Regions from separate parts of the Homo sapiens genome. Here regions 2 and 3 are each linked to region 1. Evidence: fine-mapped expression QTL. A gene starts in region 1. Each other region holds a variant in brackets. All regions are shown on one strand. Distances are between the middles of the regions. Region 1 holds the start of SLC7A7 (solute carrier family 7 member 7). Region 2 overlaps SLC7A7 (solute carrier family 7 member 7). Region 3 overlaps SLC7A7 (solute carrier family 7 member 7).

Region 1 (6,282 bases):
TGGAGCATTATCTGTAAGACTGAGAAACTGAAACCAACGTACATGGCCATTAACAGAGGACCAGCTAGATAAATAAACTACTATGCATCCTTAAAATTCACATGAAATAATATGAAGCATTTTTTAAAAAGTAGATCTGTAAGTAGAAAAGAATGTCACTGATAATGCTAGAGGAAAAGCACACTGTAGAATTACATGTAGACTAGTATGACCTCATTTTTGTAAAAGAACAAAACTACACCTCTTTTTTTTTTATTTTTATTTTTTTGAGATAGAGTCTCACTCTGTTGCCCAGGCTGGAGTGCAGTGGTGCGATCTTGGCTCACCGCAACCTCTGCCTCCTGGGTTCAAGCGATTCTCCTGCCTCAGCCTCCTGAGTAGCTGGGATTACAGGCACCTGCCACCACACCCAGCTAATTTTTGTATTTTTAGTAGAGATGGGGTTTCACCATGTTGGCCAGGCTAGTCTCGAACTCCTGACCTCAGGTGATCTGCCCACTTCAGCCTCCCAAAGTGCTGGGATTACAGGCATAAGCCACCACACCCTGCCAAAACTACATCTCTTGAAGGAACAAGAAAAAAAAATCAGTGTGCCTGTGGTCCCTGCTACTCAGGAGGCTGAGGCAGGAGGATAGCTTGAGCCTAGAAGTTCGAGGCTGAAGTAAGGTATAATCACACCACTGCACTCCAGTCTGGGTGACAGAGCAAAATACCTGTCTCTTTAAAAAAAAAAAAAAAAAATCAGGAAGAATATGCAAACTGCTAATAGTGCTTACTGTGAGAAGCTGGGGAAAAGGTGAGTGTTTTTGCGATACACTGTGGTACTGTTTGAATTTTCACACAAAGCATACTTTAACTATATATATATATATATATGTTGTCAGAGACATTCCTCTCTATCTCCTTCTTACTCCCAGACTGCACTCACATCCCAGCCTCTGTCCAGCCCTCCACCCACCACCTCCTACCCCAGCCCCACTTACAAATGCAGGCAGCAGCCAGCAGGCGGCTGGCAGCATAAGGGGCGAAGCAGCTCGGGAAGAGAGGCTGTACCATGTAGTTGGCAAAGGTGATGGCAATGATGGCCTGGCTGGTGGGCTCAATGATGAGCAGGGAGGTCCAGAGTCTGATGAAAGCAAGGAATCCTCCAAAGGCCTCCAGGATATAGGCATAGCTGGCCCCAGATTTCTTAATGGTGGTGCCCAGTTCCGCATAACAAAGGGCCCCAAAGACGGAGAAGAGGCCCCCGACAGCCCAGATGACCAGAGAGAGACCAAAGGAGGCACTGTATATGAGCACACCCTTGGGGGAAACAAAGATGCCCGAGCCGATCATGTTCCCCACAATCAGGCACACGCCGTTAAGCAGTGAGATCTCCTTCTTCAGCTTCACCTGCTCCGGCCCTGGGCTGGCCCCATCACCCAAAGGGGAGGTTTCCACCTCAGGCTGGGAGGCCACTTCATACTCAGTGCTGTCAACCATGGTGGAGGAGAGGAAACCCTTCACCAGCTTCCTGGCATTGCCCTTTAAGGAAGAAAGATGATGCTATAGATTAGGTGGTTGGCAATTACATAGAACCTCTACCCGCCTCCAACACAGGGTAATACGGGCAGCTCACCAACCAATGCGGAGACCTCCAAATAACCTTTTCTCCAGCTCACTCATCAAAACAACCCCAACTTGAATATTTGTCTATCTATCTATGTATTTATTTATTTATTGACAGAGTCTCGCTCTGTAGCCCAGGCTGGAGTGCAGTGGTGCAATCTCGGCTCGGCTCACTGCAACCTCAGCCTCCCGGGTTCAAGCGCTTCTCTTGCCTCAGCCTCCCAAGTAGCTGGGATTACAGGCACCTGCCACCACGCGTGGCTAATTTTTTTTTTTTTTTTTTGAGATGGAGTTTTGCTCTTGTTGCCCAGGCTGGAGTGCAATGGCGCGATCTCAGCTCACTGCAACCTCCGCCTCCCGGGTTCAAGTGATTCTCCTGCCTCAGCCTCCCAAGTAGCTGGGATTATAGGCATGCACCACCACACCCAGCTAATTTTGTATTTTTAGTAGAGATGGGGTTTCTCCATGTTGGTCAGGATGGTCTCAAACTCCCGACCTCAGGTTATCCGCCCGCCTCGGCCTCCCAAAGTGCTGGGATTACAGGCGTGAGCCACCTTGCCCAGCCTCCAACTTGAATTTTTAAGAGAAGGCACTCATTCGCCAGAGAGAAAGGATCTGTCTCTCATCATTAGGACATTGCTGCCCACCCGACTCACCAAATAGAGAACTAAATCTTGGGCCGGGCGCTGTGGCTCACATCTGTAAACCCAGCACTTTGGGAGGCCAAGGCGGGCAGATCACCTAAAGTCGGGAGTTCGAGACCAGCCTGACCAACATTTAGAAACCCAGTCTCTACTAAAAATACAAAAATTAGCCATGCGTGGTGGCACATGCCTGTAATCCCAGCTGCTTGGGAGGCTGAGGCAGGAGAATCACTTGAGCCCGGGAGGCAGAGGTTGCGGTAAGCTAAGACTGGGCCATTGCACTCCAGCCTGGGCAACAAGAGCAAAACTCTGTCTCAAAAAAAAAACAAAATCAAAAACAAAACACTAAATGTTGGTTCTCTCTGAGCCTGCTATAATACAAGACAGGCATGGGGGCAGTGTGGCGGCTCCCAGAAAATAACTATAATGGCTTGACCCCGAGTTTTCAGCCTTATCCAAAACCCGTCTTCCCTCCAATTTCAGCTTCAGGGATCACCTGTGCTGAGGTACAACATTAGGAACTGACCCTACCAGCAGCTAATCTGTGGGAGCGTCTCATGACACTGCTCTTTTCCCCAAGGACTCTACGTCTGCCAAAACTAAAGGCTTCAGAAACCTGCTGGAAACCCACAACCATCCTCCTGCCCAAAGAGCATCCCTTAACCCTTAGCTGGAGTCTTCAGCCCTGGCAAAGCCCAAGTAGACCCACTTCACCCTGAAAGAAGACAGGCTATTATCTTTTCCTTGCTTTTCCTTTCCCATTCTCTGGTATTCTAAGCCTCCTGCTATCGATCCCTCACATCAGCATCGTTGAATCACCCAAAAAAGTATGAATGAGAGAAGGGCGATCCAATGTACCATAAAACCTAGGGATGATTGGAGGCAGCTGATGGCCACTCCCTACCCCAGAGTTGCTGCTGGAGAGATATCACCCCGAGCCAAGGCAGGGAGACAGCTGCAGCCAGGCAGCACATGCTGGAAAACACCGAACAGGAGACAGCTGAGAGGAAAATGGGAGAGGCTAGTCAAGCAATGGAGAGATGTTAGGGTGAGAGGCACTCGGGAGAAGAAGCGATTAGACACTGCACAGCAGCAAAGAGGAGGGTTAGCAAGGTAAGTGGAGATGAGAAGAGGGTGGAACGCACACTCACTCCTTGGTCCTGGATATAAGCAGGTTCTCACGGCAGTGTGAGCAGCAGTCAGGGAGAGAAGTGCCTTCCAGGATCTGTGGTCTGATGCTCCTCCTTCCCAGCCAGCAGTAAAAGGGAAGGCCAGACAAATGCCTATGGATTTAAGCAAGAAGGGTGGAGGAGGTGAGGCAGCCCGCAAAGGAAGGAGTGAGGGAGGGGGAAAGGAGTATTAAGCAACCATCTGGGTCCAAGGTTCACTGGCCCTTCACATCTGCAAAAGGGGCAGCTAGGAGCTCTTGGCTCAGCACTTTCTGTGATAAGAAGGTGCTCTCTCAGGAATCTCCTTTGTCAGCTCTGCTCTGGGACCAGGGGCCCAGAAGAAAGGACAGTCAGCTGAGTGCAGTATCTGTAGCCCTGGGGAAGCTGTCCCAGAGCAAGTTAGCTGAGGACAGGACAGTAGCGGGGAAGGAATACACAGCACTCTCTCTCTCTGTGTCCTCCATGCCCCACCCTAGCCTCTCTTCTCTCTCACCCCAAGCATTTAAGAAAGGGAGGAAGGTTGCACAGTGTGACACAAAGGCTTGTTCCCATGCTGAGATTACAGGAAGTGTAAGAGCAGTCTCTACACCATGTGACTGGGTGTTCTAAGAGAACTCTGCACACTTCCCCATGCAAAGAGAGACTGGGGGGTTGCCTCCAAGCCTGGGCCACTGCCCCAAAGTCTGAGCCTCAGACTACTTCAAAAGAAACACAGTCAAGAGATCAAATATCTGACTGCATCCCCACCAGACCCACGTGCCTTTTCATTCTTGACAAAACATACCAAGATCTCTGGGATAAGCATAAATTCCTATAAACGCCTTCCTCAAATATAAGTTGACTCCACTTTCCTAAAAAATATGAGGAAATCAGGCCAGACGCGGTGGCTCACGCCTGTAATCCCAGCACTTTGGGAGGCTGAGGCAGGCGGATCACAAGGTCAGGAGATCAAGACCATCCTGGCTAACACGGTGAAACCCCGTCTCTACTAAAAACACAAAAAAATAAAAATTAGCCGGGCGTGGTGGCGGGCACCTGTAGTCCCAGCTATTCGGGAGGCTGAGGCAGGAGAATGAGGAGAATGGCATGAACCCGGGAGGCGGAGCTTGCAGTGAACCCACATTAGGCCACTGCACTCCAGCCTGGGCAACACAGCAAGACTCCATCTCAAAAAAAAAAAATTAAAAAAGAATATGAGGAAATCAGATTTCACTGAATTCTGTTGGACAGACAGGCCCAGAACAGGCAGAGGAAGCTGAGCACTTTTTGGAAATCACATAGTTTATGCTATCTTTATTATTTACTTTAAATCTGGTATTCTGAGTCTCTTTTACCAACAGAAATAGACCCTATCCATTCTGAAATCCAACTGTCTGTTTCTTCTCCTATCTGTTCTAACCCTCTTTGGTTATTCTACAACCAGAGAATAGAGATCTAAATATCTCTGGGAGACATCTCTACCATACATCCTCCCATTCTAGCTCTTTAAACTTTTAATTTAATCTAGGAGGAGGATTCTGGTGTGAGCGTTCCCAGAGATCATGCTTCTCCCAAGACAGGCTCACAATGATCTGAAATCCTTCTGGAGGAGACTCTCCTTTTCTCCAAAATGCTCCTGTAATAATAATTGCTATCACTTATTGAGCACTTACTGGGCCAGACACACTGCTAAGGACTTAAGCACATTATCTCATGGAACCTCCAGAGCTCATATACTCTTAATCACACAAGTATACTATCTCTCCATCTCCCCATCCCCCTGGCCTGCCTTAGTCTCTAGGCCTTCCTTTTATTTTTTTTTTTTTTTATTTATTTTCTTTTTTTGAGACAGAGTCTCACTCTGTCCCCCAGGCTGGAGTGCAGTGGCACGATCTTGACTCACTGCAACCTCCACCACCTCCTGGTTCAAGCAATTCTCATGCATCAGCCTCCTGAGTAACTAGGATTACACCTGGCTAATTTTTGTGTTTTTATTTCGGTATTTTTATTTTATTTTATTTTATTTTATTTTATTTATTTTGAGACAGACACTTACTCTGTCGCCCAGGCTGGAGTGCAGTGGTGCAATCTCGGCTCACTGCAACCTCCACCTACTGGGTTCAAGCAATTCTCCTGCCTCAGCCTCCCGAGTAGCTGGGATTACAGGTGCACACCACCACGCCCAGCTAATCTTTTTTGTTTTTAGTAGAGTCGGGGTTTCACCACATTGACCAGGATGGTCTTAAACTCCTAAACTCAGGCAATCCGCCCACCTCGGCCTCCCAAAGTGCTAGGATTACAGGCATGAGCCATTGTGCCCAGCCTAATTTTTGTATTTCTAGTAGAGACGAGGTTTTGCCATGTTGGCCAGGCCGGTCTTGAACTCCTGGCCTCAACTGATCCACCTGCTTCTGCCTCCCAAAGTGATGGGATTACAGGCGTGAGCCACCGATGCCACCTTAGACCTTGCTTTTGGACAGGAATTATCTACATGAATTACCTGGGGGAAGATGTAAGCAGACTAGATTAAAAAGAAAGAAAGCCTCTGTCATCCTTCAGTCTATAGCCTAGACGAAAGGCTCCAACAAAGTTTGTTAATCTCCTTCCTGGCTGCCCCTCCCCTTTCTCATTCTTTGCAGGGATAAGAGGTGATTACAAGTCCTCTTGGCAGTGCTGCTATTGCTAGGGTGCCCACTTCTAAAGCAAACAAAAAAAAAAACACAAACACATCATCACGCCTGCCCTTTTAAGACCAAATTCACTGGCACCAAGGGGTGGGCATGTGTCCTAATATGACGTAAAAGAAAGGAAGGAAGGAGGGACAAAGGAAGGGAAAACTGTGAGGGGGAATGGAGAGAGAAGTGTACAGGGTTTCATTCCTG
Region 2 (6,282 bases), 25 kb before region 1:
CATATTTAGTCTTAGTGACTTTCCTCTGAGTTTTTATGCATTATTCTTATATGATATGGGATTTTTCCTTCTTCATTTTATTAGTTCAAATCCCTTCTTTAATTTTGTGAAATCTGCAAATTTGATCAGCATACCTCCTGAGTCTTCACTGAAGTCACCCTAAAAATGTTGACTAGGGCCGGGCGCAGTGGCTCACGCCTGTAATACCAGTACTTTGGGAGACCGAGGAGGGAGGATCACCTGAGGTCAGGAGTTTGAGACCAGGTTGGCCAACATAGTGAAACCCCGTCTCTACTAAAAGAACAAAAATTATCCGGGTGTGGTGGTGGGCACCTGTAGTCCCAGCTACTCGGGAGGCTGAGGCAGGAGAATCGCTTGAACCCAGGAGGCGGAGGTTGCAGTGAGCCAAGATTACACCACTACACTCCAGCCTGGGCGACAGAGTGAGACTCCGTCTCAAAATAAATAAATAAATAAATAAATGTTGACATGGGCTGGCAGCAGTGGCTCACGCCTGTAATCCCAACACTTTGGGAGGCTGAGGCAGGCAGATCACTTGAGGCCAGGAGTTCGAGACCAGCCTGGCAATATGGCAAAACCCCATCTCTACTAAAAGGAAAATGCAAAAATTAGCAGGGTGTGATGGCACACGCCTGTGGTCCCAGCTACTCAGGAGGCTGAGACATGGGAATTGTTTGAGCCTAGGAGGCAGAGGTTGCACTGAGCCAAGATTGTGCCACTGCACTCCAGCCTAGGTGACAGAGCAACACTCTGTCTCAAAAAAAATTTTTTTAATAAAAAAATTAAAATGTTAGGCCGGGCACGGTGGCTCACGCCTGTAATCCCAGCACTTTGGGAGGCCGAGGCAGGCAGATCACAAGGTCAGGAGATCGAGACCATCCTGGCTAACACAATGAAACCCCATCTCTACTAAAAATACAAAAAGTTAGCCGGGCGTGGTGGCGGGTGCCTGTAGTCCCAGCTACTCGGGAGGCTGAGGCAGGAGAATGGCGTGAACCCGGGAGGCGGCGGTTGCAGTGAGCCGAGATCGCGCCACCGCACTCCAGCCTGGGTGACAGAGCGAGAGTTCGTCTCAAAAAAAAAAAAATTAAAATGTTGACTAAGATCAACAGAGCTGTATAGTCTATCACTGTAGACCTTTCTGTATTTGTCATTATTCCACAATGTTATTCAGCCAACTAAGAATCTACCAAACTTTATTTTTATCTAGTCTACCTTGTCAACAAGAATATCATGAGAATTTGCCACGAACCTCTCCGAAATCTGCATACACATGCCTCTGCTCTAACAATCTAATGATGCTATCAAACAATTCAAATCAAATTAGTATATATTTATGTAGAATATTCATAGTTACACCCTTGCAGTAGTCAAAAACTAGAAACAACCCAAATGCCCAGCAACAGTAGATTGAATAAATACTAAACAGCACTAAGAATAAACAATCTGTAATCCTAGCACGTTGGGAGGCCAAGGCGGGCAGATCACAAAGTCAGGAGTTTGAGATCAGCCTGGCCAACATGGTGAAACCCCCGTCTCTACTAAAAATACAAAAATTAGCTGGGCGTGGTGGCGGGCACCTGTCATCCCAGCTACTCAGGAGGCTGAGGCAGGAGAATCGCTTGAACCCGGGAGGTGGAGGTTGCAGTGAGCCAAGATCCTACCACTGCACTCCAGCCCGGGCGACAGAGTGAGACTCTGTCTGGGAAAAAAAAAAAAAAAAAGTGAACAATCTACGACTACAGACAAAAATACAGAAGAATCTCAAACATAATAAGCAAGCCAGATGCAAAAGTGTACATATAGATTATATCCATTTACATAAAATCAGAGAAAACTAATCAATGCTACTAGAAGTCAGAATAGTGATTTCCCTTTGTGTGGGGTGGAGAGGCAGGGACTGGGAAGAGCATAAGAAGGGCTCAAGGGTGCTAGTTACACATGTGCTCAACTAGTGACAATTCATTAAGCCATAAACTTATGAGATTGCACTGTTCCTTCTGTATATTATATTTGAATAAAAAAATTAAAATTGAACCAAAAAGTGAGGTTAGCAGAGTATGGCTTGTTCTTAGTGAATTCATACACGTTACTAATGATTTCCCACCCTTCTGCTCGTACTTCACTAACCAGATTTAACTTACAAGCCTAGAATTTGGGCAAGAATCCACCTTAAGTTATCACTTCAGAGTGCTGCTCATCCACCTCCGGTGGAAAGCTGGGCTATCACTTGTGGTAGGTAGACTAATGGCCCCCCAAAGATGTCCACCCCCTAATCCCTGGAACCTGTGAGCCATGTTATATTGCATGGCAAGGGAGAATTAAAGTTGCAGATAGAGGCCAGGCGCAGTGGCTCATGCCTGTAATCCCAGCACTTTAGGAGGCCAAGGCGGGCAGATCACCTGAGGTCAGGAATTCTAACCAACATGAGTCAGCCTAACCAACACGGTGAAACCCCGTCTCTACTAAAAATACAAAAAATAGCTGGGTGTGGTGGTGGGTGCCTATAATCCCAGCTACTCAGGAGGCTGAGGCAGGAGAATTGCTTGAACCCAGGAGGCGGAGGTTGCAGTGAGCCAAGATCACACCACTGCACTTCAGCCTGGGCAACAGAGCAAGACTCTGGCTCAAAAAAAAAAAAAAAAAAGAAAAAAGTTGCAGACAGAATGAAGATTGCTAATCAAGTGACAAAACAGGGAAATCATTCTGTATTCTCTGGGTGGGCCCAATGTAATCACAAAAGTTCTTAAAGATGAAAGAGGGAGGCAGAAAGGTCAATGTCAGAGTAGTACAATATGAGAAAGACTCTCCCAGTTACTGCTGACTTTGAAAATGGAAGGGTCCATGAGACTCTAGAAGCTGGGAAAGGCAAGAAGATGGATCCTCTCCTTAAGCCTCCAGAAAGAAACACAGTGCTACTTCATATTAGCCCAGTGAGACCCATTTCAGACTTCTGACCTCCAGAATTATGAGATGATAAATTTGTGTTGTTTTCAGCCACTCAATTGGTGGTAACTTGTTAGAGAAGCAATAGAAAACTCATATGTTGGCTGGGCACAGTGGCTCGCTCCTGTAATTCCAGCACTTTGGGAGGCCAGGGTGGGCTGATCCCTTGAGCTCAGGAGTTTGAAACCAGCCTGGGCAACATAGAGAAACCCTGATTCTACAAAAAATACAAAAATTAGCTGGGCCTGGTGGCGTGCACCTGTAGTCTCAACTACTCAGGAGGCTAAGGTGGGAGAATTGCTTGAGCCTGGGGAGGTCAAGGCTGCAGTGATCCTTGATTGCACCACTGCATTCCAGCCTGGGTGACAGAGCAAGACTGTCTCAAAAAAAAAAAAAAAAAAAAAAAAAAAACCTAACTGCAGGCAGAAAACTGGAAGTAGCACTGGGTGGTACTATTCATTACATTTGTTGAAAAATGGAGAAAGGGGAAGTGAAACCCTTGACAGCTCACTGGATCTTGGTGTACTGAAATTTCCCTCTCACTG[C/T]AATCAAAAGAATCTAAATGTGACCTTATGCAAAGAAGGCAGGCATCCCTTATGATAGCAGATCCTCAAACAAGTATGTACCTCTCTCTTTAATGTACTACATGAATCCCAGCTCTTCTAGCAAATCATCATTTTTGAACAAAGTATACTCTTTCATTATCATATTCTAATCAAATATCGCTGATGCCTATGAAATTGTTTCCTCCTTTCAGTAAAAGGTCAAATACGGGCCGGGCACAGTGGCTCATGCCTGTAATCCCAGCACTTTGGGAGGCGGAGGCAGACGAATCACGAGTTCAAGAGATTGAGACCATCCTGGCCAACATGGTGAAACCCCGTCTCTACTAAAAATACAAAAATTAGCTGGGTGTGGTGGTGTGCGCCTGTAGTCCCAGCTACTGGGGAGGCTGAGGCAGGAGAATCACTTGAGCCCAGGAGGCGGAGGTTGCAGTGAGCTAAGATCGCGCCACTGCACTCCAGCCTGGTGACAGAGCGAGACTCCGTCTCACAAAAAAAAAAAAAAAAGGTCAAATACGTTTATTAGCCTTACTTGTAATATTTGTAGATAAGAGTTCAAAAGCATCATTTCTGATCTTCCATCCCATTTTCTCCAAATGCGTTACTGAGCAACTCCTCTCTGCCTTTATTCTCTGCTATGTAGTCTCCAAAATACCCAGATTTATACTTTTATCTAGGCATTTTTCTCCTTGCCTCTAAAATTTCCATTCTAAAGCCTTATTATACACATCTCTCCCAATCCCTATAAACCTCCTCTATCCCTTACCAGGAGTTTATCTTTCTGGTATCTTAGAATCTTAGAATTTACGGTTAGGAACTCTGTTCTGTGTTCTTTTTTCTTTCACATACACAGCCTTCAGCTGACAAAGAGACGAAAATTCCACCTGCCACTCAGTTTGCTACTTTAAACTTCACGTCACCAGTGAGACATCTCAGCTATCTTCTGACTGGTGACATCATTCATCCCACAGCAATTAGCAGAAGGATAGCAGTCCCTAGGCTTAATTGGTGTGAGCAAGCTCTTGGTCACATGTTGCTCAGAAAAACTGCACATTTCTAGGTTAGGCTGGGTCTGTGTATAGTCAGATGCACACTATTCCTGGGGGAAGGCCAAACCCCACAACTGGCATACTCAGGCCTGCTAATACCCTGGTGTCTCCAAAATACTCTACCACTGCTGTTTCCTCAGAAGGTCCAGATATAAGCTCTCTGGAAACGCCTCATATCTGTTACCTAAACCCAGAGATTTCAAGTCTCTTCTTCCTTTTCTTTGCTGCATCCCCATTTGTTTTGTCTAATGTTGGTTTGGGAAAATCTCTACACCTTTTTTTTTTTTTTTTTAATTGAGATGGAGTCTCGCTCTGTCGCCCAGGCTGGAGTGCAGTGGCGCCATCTCGGCTCACTGCAAGCTCCGCCTCCTGGGTTCACGCCATTCTCCTGCCTCAGCCTCCCGAGTAGCTGGGACTACGGGCGTCCGCCACCACGTCCGGCTAATTTTTTTGTACTCTTAGTACAGACGGGGTTTCACCATGTTAGCCAGGATGGTCTCAATTTCCTGACCCCGTGATCCACCCGCCTTGGCCTCCCAAAGTGCTGGGATTACAGGCTTGAGCCACCGCGCCCGGCCTGGAAACTCTCTACACCTTGAAATCACAATTTCACCCTGGCTTCTTTGATACATTATTTCTTCCACTCTCCCTAGGTGCTGTTATTTCTCTCAGATAGCAGATGGCCTTCAAATTATTTTACCTTTCAGACTACAGAAACCTTTTACTCCAGGTGCAGTGGCTCATGCCTATAATCCCAGCACTTTGGAAGGCCAAGACGTGAGGATCACTTGAGGCCAGGAGTTGGAGACCAGCCTGGGCAGCATAGCAAGACCCTTTCTCTACAAAAAAATTACAAATTAGCTGGACTTGGTGGTGCACACTGATGGTCCTAGCTACTTGGAAGGCTGAGGTGGGAAGGTCACTTGAGTGCAGGATTGAGCCCATAACCATGCTACTGCACACCAGCCTGGGCAACAAAGCAAGACTTCGTCTCAGAAAATAAAATAACATTTTTGACCAGGCGTGGTGGTGGCTCACACCTGTAATCCCAGCATTTTGGGAAGCCGAAGTGGGCGGATCACCTGAGGTCAAGCGTTCATGACCAGCCTGACCAACATGGCAAAACCCCGTCTCTACTAAAAATACAAAAATTAGCCAGCCGTGGTGGCGCACGCCTGTAATCCTAGCTACCTGGGAGTCTGAGAGAGGAGAATCATTTTGAACCCAGGAGGCGGAGGTTGCAGTGAGCCGAGATTGCACCACTGCACTCCAGCCTGGATGATAGTGTGAGGCCCCGTCTCAAAGAAAGAAAGAGAGAGAGAGAGAGAGAGAGAGAGAGAAAGGAAAAGAAAAGAAAAATATCTTTTTTTTTTTTTTAAAGACAGAGTCTCGCTCTGTCGCCCAGGCTGGAGTGCAGTGGTGCGATCTTGGCTCACTGCAACCTCCGCCTCCCGGGTTCATGCCGTTCTCCTGCCTCAGCCTCCCAAGTAGCTGAGACTACAGGCGCCCGCCACCAAGCCCAGCTAATTTTTTGTATTCTTTAGTAGAGACAGGGTTTCACCGTGTTAGCCAGGATGGTCTCGATCTCCTGACCTCGTAATCCGCCCGCCTCGGCTTCCCAAAGTGCTGGGATTACAGGCGTAAACCACCACGCCCAGCCAATTAAAATAAAAATTTTAAAGAAACAACCAATTCGCTTACTC
Region 3 (6,282 bases), 32 kb before region 1:
CGGTAGCAACTTGGGCAAGATATTTAATTCTTTTTTTTTTTTGGGGGGGGGACAGAGTCTCGCTCTGTCGCCCAGGCTGGAGTGCAGTGGCGTGATCTCAGCTCACTGCAACCACCGCCTCCTGGATTCAAGCGATTCTCCTGCCTCAGCCTCCCGAGTAGCTGGGATTACAGGCGCCTGCCACCATGCCCGGCTAATTTTTGTATTTTTAGTCGAGATGGGGTTTCACCATCTTGGCCAGGCTGATCTTGAACTCCTGACCTCATGGATCCACCCGCGATGGCCTCCCAAAGTGCTGGGATTACAAGCACGAGCCACTGCGCCCGGCCCAAGGTACTTAATTCTGCAGGCTGTTTCCTCATCCATAAAATGAGAATAATAATAGTGCCCACCGAATAAGGTTATAGTAAGAAATGAGATAATGCACAAAGAGCACTTAGAGGAGTGCGGCTCACAGAAAATGCTTAAAAAAGATTAGTTGCTACTAATATTATTTCTTACCCTGGCCAAGTCTAACAATGCCTGCAACGATGACCGCGATCAGTGCCAATACTTTAGCATAGGTGAAAATATCTTGTACCAGGGTTCCCCATTTGACATAGGCACAGTTAATGAAGGTTAAGAGACCTGAAAGAAAAATAATACTGATTGGTGACTTACCCTTACCACCCTAGGGCCTTAGACTCCCAAGCAATTTTTCCAGTACCAGTCACCAAGATATATATACCCTTCAGCCAAAGACAGACCCTCTGACCTGCTCTGCACTGGAACCCTCGGGGCCCCAGAATGTCCTCACCATTATCATACAAAGGCCTCTATACTCCCCACCCCCAGCACCTTATATGGGAGACACAAAACAAAGTGACTGCAGATCTGCTTACATAAAAAATACATCCAAATGTCCAATCACAGCAGTGGGAGGCAACTGGGAACTGTACAGGATTAGTGATTGTTCCGGCTCTTGGCTCTGAAAAGTCATGGTCTCTCCCTCCTACCTCCCATTCCCCATGGGCTCCAGGACACAGCACTCTGACTCTGTGGTATTACTGTTAACCTTGAGGAGTTCTGCTGTGACTTATCCAATGCTGAGCCAGCAGGTCAGGCTGTGTGGCCAAGGATTAGGATGAAGGCCAGACTTCCTGCCCACTGCCTGGCAGCTCAGCTGCCTGCTTTTGTGCTTGGAAAGATTCTTGCAGCTAAGAGTGGTTCCTGTAGAATGGGGACAGGGCATTTTTCCTGATGGGACAATAGAGAAGTAAGAGCCACACACATTCCCCCAGTCCTTCTACTCAGAAGTACAGGTTTTAAAAGTACCTTTTATCAGGGTTCTTAACTAGGGCCTCCATGAGGCTCGAAATTCTCTTTCAAAGTGTTATGTCCATATGAATACAGACATACCTAAGAAAAAGTTTCATATCTTTTCTTAGAAAGGGATCATAGCTTTTATCAGAATCTCAAGTCCATTATCCCTCCCCCAACAAAAAAGTTACAATCTACGACTTGAATTTGAATTACTTGAAGAAGTTCAACAAGGGAGGCTCACGCATGCTGTGAGGTTGACCAGTAGCCCCAGAATGTGGCCGAGAAGAAAGTTGGAAAAAAAAATACAGATCTTCCCACTGGTAGCATAGCGAATCGCTTCATTGCTCCCTCCTTCCCAGCTCAGCAACTGGAACACTATAAGGAGGGCTTAACTTTAAAGCCCTTCTCCCAAGGGCTCCAAGGGCAAGGTCAACATCACCCTGCCTTACCAGTCAAGAGAATGAGGCCTAGTACAGTTCTTGCCTACTTCAGGCCACCAACACAGTCAGAAACACCCTCTGAGTTCTCCTGGCAGTGGTGTGGCCTTGGTGTCGCTAGTCCTCCTATTTTGTGGTGTCCTGGCCTCACCACATTCTGGCTACTTCATCCTGAGAAGCAGGGAAGTCTGGCCTCTCAGAACAGCTGCCCCATCTTCTCTCTCTCACCCTCCCTTCCACCACCACCCTCATTCTACTGACTGCCCAAGTTCCTTTCTGCTCTTCCTGAGAAGGCACATTCCTGTCCTATATAAATGCTTGCCTTTCTGCCTAATAAACAACAAACCTTATCACAGGGCTGGGCAAAAATGTACCCACAGCTCCAGGCCACCCCAGTGCTAAGTTAATAATTTAAGACACAAGTGTGCAGCACCCCACAAAATGACCAAAGTGGCTGTATCTTGCCCTCCACAAATCTTTCAAATCTGTCACTCCTCCTCAGCCAGTCACCCATCCTTTACTCCCCACTGGACTCCAGCCTCCAGCCACTCAACAGCTTAGTGCCCCTTCTCCCCAGCTTGTAACCTCTGCCCTTATCCTAGGCTCTGCGGCTGGCTCATAACCACAACATAGCCAGGTTTCCAAGTAGAAACACCAGACACAAAGGATGCTGCCACATTGTCAGGAAAATGGGATCCCCAAATACAAATTTATGATTCCCTGCAGGGTAACCATGAGTCATAACACCAAACTGGAATAAGCTTACAGGACTA[G/C]CTCTAGTTCAGACTCAGAGTCTGAGCTGTGTGCCACAAGGTTCTTCTCAGTTCTGTCCAGGGATGTAGGCAGGGAAAAGGAGGGATAAGCAACCAATTCACCACCTGCTACCACAGCAGATTCTGAAATGGAAATACATGGCTTGTTTATATTTTATTTTATTTATTTTTCTTTTTCTTTTTGAGACAGAGTTTCACCCTTGTTGCCCAGGCTGGAGTGCAATGGCGTGGTCTCGGCTCATGGCAACATCTGCCTCCCGGGTTCAAGCCATTCTCCTGCCTCAACCTCCCAAGTAGCTGGGATTACAGGTGTGCGCCACTATGCCCAGCTAATTTTTATATTTTTAGTAGAGATGAGGTTTCACCATGTTGGCCAGGCTTGTCGCAAACTCCTGACCTGAGGTGATCCACCCACCTCAGCCTCCCAAAGTGCTGGGATTACAAGCATGAGCCACCGCGCCCGGCCTATATTTTATTATTTTTTTTTATTTACTTATTTATTGACTTATTTATTTATTTATTTATTTATTTTATTTATTTTTTGAGACACAGTCTTGCTCTGTCACCCAGGCTGAAGTGCAATGGCATGATCTTGGCTCACTGCAACCCCCACTTCCCAGGTTCAAGCAATTCTCCTGCCTCAGCCTCCCGAGTAGCTGGGACTACAGGTGTGTGCCACCATGCCTGGCTAATTTTTGTATTTTTAGTAGAGATGGGGTTTCACCATACTGGCCAGGCTAATCTCGAACTCCTGAGCTCAGGTGATCCGCCCACCTCGGCCTCCCAAAATGCTGAGATTACAGGCGTGAGCCACCACACCCGTCCCTTTTTGTTTTTTTTTTGGAGATGGGGATCTCACTCTTTCACCCAAGCCAGAGTACAGTGGAGAAATCATAGCTCACTGCAGCATCGAACTCCTGAGCTCAAGGGATCCTCCCAGCTCAGCCACCCTAGTAGCTGGGATCAAAGGTGTGCACCACCATGCCCAGCTAATTTGTTTTAATTTTTTTTTTTTTTGAGATGGAGTCTTGCTGTCACCCAGCCTGGAGTGCAGTGGTGCGATCTCAGCTCACTGCAACCTCTGCCTCCAGGGTTCAAGCAGTTCTCCTGCCTCAGCCTCTTGAGTAGCTAGGACTACAAGTGCCCACCACCACACCTGGCTAATTTTTGTATTTTTAGTAGAGACAGGGTTTCACCATGTTGGTCAGGCTGGTCTCGAACTCCTGACCTTGTGATCTGCCCTCCTCAGCCTCCCAAAGTGCTGGGATTACAGGTGTGAGCCACCGTGCCTGGCTGTTTTAATTTTTTTAGAGACGGGGTCTTGCTATGTGGCCCAGGCTGGTCTCGAACTCCTGGCCTCAGGCAATCCTTCCACCTCAGCTATCTGAGGAGTAACTGGGATTATAGGGAAGAGCCATGGCACCTGGGTGGCTTGTTTACATTTTAATCCCTATTGCTTCTCTACTTCTTTTTTTTTTTTTTTCGAGACAGTCTTGCTCCGTCCCCCAGGCTGGAGTACAGTGGTGCGATCTCAGCTCACTGCAACCTCCGCCTCCTGGGTTCAAGCGGTTCTCCTGCCTCAGCCTCCCGAGTAGCTAGAATTACAGACATTCAACACCATGCCCAGCTAATTTTTGTATTTTTAGTAGAGACAGGGTTTCGCCATGTTAGCCAGACTAGTCTCAAACTCCTGACCTCAGGTGATCCGCCTGCCTCAGCCTCCCAAAGTGCTGGGATTACAGGTGTGAGTCACCGGCGTGGCGTGCCCAGTCTCTTCTCTACTTCTCTATCCATCCATTTGTATCCCTCTCTTTGTCCACCAGTATCCCACCTCCCCCACTCCTGAGCCTGATTTCTCTGACCCACCTTCTAGCCCTGATCTGCTCTCTGTACTGAGCACAGAAGGCTCAGTTTGAATGAGGAAGGGAATCCTACAGAAAGAAACCAGGGAGCAGAGGGAACTGCCTGAAGAGAGCTAGCCCTCCTCTTCCTCAAAGCCTAGCTTCCTCCAGGGCCTCTTGACTGTGGGAGCAGGAAATGGGTATGGCAGGCAGCAGTGCTGACAGGGCTTTTTGTCCCCACCTCAGCGGATACAGCTGACCACTGGCCCCAGAGCCCAGCTAAGTGCACTGCTCTTGAAGTGGAGCCCAACCTCCTGCTTCAGGGCCAAGGACAGGAGGGGACCATGGGGTTAGGATAATATGGAGGCAACTGCAAGTTAACCTCAAGGGCAGAGATGCCCTCCCCTTCTACCTCTAGGGGCAATTCAATCCCCACCCAACACTGGGCCAAGTCTATAAGAGGATAACCTGAAATCACCTTTGACCCTTGACTCGGTGCAGCAGCACTCCTGCTTTGACCCCAGGGGGAGAAAAAAAGAATCTGCAAAGAAGTCACTCGTGGCCGGGTGCAGTGGCTCACGCCTGTAATCCCAGCACTTTGGGAGGCCGAGGTGGACAGATCACGAGGTCAAGAGATCGAGACCATCCTGGCCAACATGGTGAAACCCTGTCTCTACTAAAAATACAAAAATTAGCTGGGCATGGTGGTGTGTGCCTGTAGTCCCATCTACTTGGGAGGCTGAGGCAGGAGAATCACTTGAACCCAGGAGGCGGAGGATGCAGTGAGCCAAGATCACACCACTGCACTCCAGCCTGGTGACAGAGCAAGACTCCATCTCAAAAAAAAAAAAGAGAAGTCACTCCTATAACCATCTAAAAAGATGTTCCTGAATGGATCATCAAACCCAGCCTACATACGGTCCCCGGGAGTAGGAGACTAGTTCTAGTGGTAAGGCCCAGCATCAGCGCTAGAACTAAAAGCCAGAAAGCACCAGACCAGGTGGATCCAGAACAGAACAAAGCTTGCAGGCCCACTCTGGATCAGATGCTCAGGTTTAGTTTAGACACCTAAATGAAACATTTCCTGAAAAAGAACATTAAACCCACAATTCTGTAAGCACTATTACCTTTAAATACACACAATGTAACACACAAAACTTATGATTACAGGCGTGAACCACCATGCCCGGCGTCATTCCATTTTAAAAGTGATCTATAGAGCCAGGCGCGGTGGTTCGCGCCTGTAATCCCAGCACCTTGAGAGACTGAGGCGGGCAGATCACTTGAGGCCAGGAGTTTGAGACCAGTCTGGCCACCATGGCGAAACCCCGTCTCTACTAAAAATATAAATATTAGCTGAGTGTGGTGGCGCATGCCTGTAATCCCAGCTACTTGGAGGCAGAGGTAGGAGAATCATTTGAACCCGGGAGGCAGAAATTGCAGTGAGCCAAGATCACGCCACTGCACTCCAGCCTGGGTGACACAGTGAGACTCCATCTCAAAAAATAAAATAAAATAAAGTGATCTATAGCTCTTCCTTTTACTAAGCCAACAGCGTCTTCCTCCCAGCTTCTACCAGTAGTGCCAGACCCCTCCTCTGTCTCCACACAGAATGAAGCTAAATCCTCTTCCACCCAATGGCCCTTCTTAACATTAAAGATGAATATCACGGCCAGGCGCTGGCTCACGCCTGTAATCCCAGCACTTTGGGAGGCCAAGGCGGGCAGATCATCTGAGGTTGGGAGTTCGAGACCAGCCTGACCAACATGGAGAAACTCCGTCTCTACTAAAAATACAAAAATTGGCCAGGCGTGGTGGCACATGCCTGTAATCCCAGCTAGTCGGGAAGCTGAGGCAGAAGAATCACTTGAACTCGGGAGGTGGAGGTTGCGGTGAACTGAGATCTCGCCATTGCACCAGCCTAGGCAA

The links. PIP is the estimated chance that this variant, and not a neighbour inherited with it, causes the effect.
Region 2: its variant is fine-mapped to the expression of SLC7A7 in whole blood (TOPMed, PIP above 0.99). The same link has a PIP of 0.9 or more in blood mononuclear cells.
Region 3: its variant is fine-mapped to the expression of SLC7A7 in whole blood (INTERVAL, PIP above 0.99).

The regions. Positions count from the first base shown.
Region 1 is chr14:22,811,917-22,818,198 of GRCh38, forward strand. It overlaps SLC7A7 (solute carrier family 7 member 7), which reads right to left and starts at 3,519. Exons shown (of 10, transcript NM_003982.4): 1 at 3,404-3,519; 2 at 984-1,524. The coding sequence starts at 1,482. RefSeq lists silencers at 1,367-1,426, 1,447-1,506 and enhancers at 2,814-3,320, 3,509-3,608.
Region 2 is chr14:22,786,978-22,793,259 of GRCh38, forward strand. The region is part of intron 2 of SLC7A7 (solute carrier family 7 member 7); the gene reads right to left. Among named protein-coding and RNA genes, the nearest start is that of OXA1L, 23 kb to the left of the region's middle. The variant C/T (reference allele first, on the strand shown) is at 3,513.
Region 3 is chr14:22,779,425-22,785,706 of GRCh38, forward strand. SLC7A7 (solute carrier family 7 member 7) reads right to left here. Exons shown (of 10, transcript NM_003982.4): 3 at 502-627. Among named protein-coding and RNA genes, the nearest start is that of OXA1L, 16 kb to the left of the region's middle. RefSeq lists a silencer at 4,013-4,183. The variant G/C (reference allele first, on the strand shown) is at 2,513.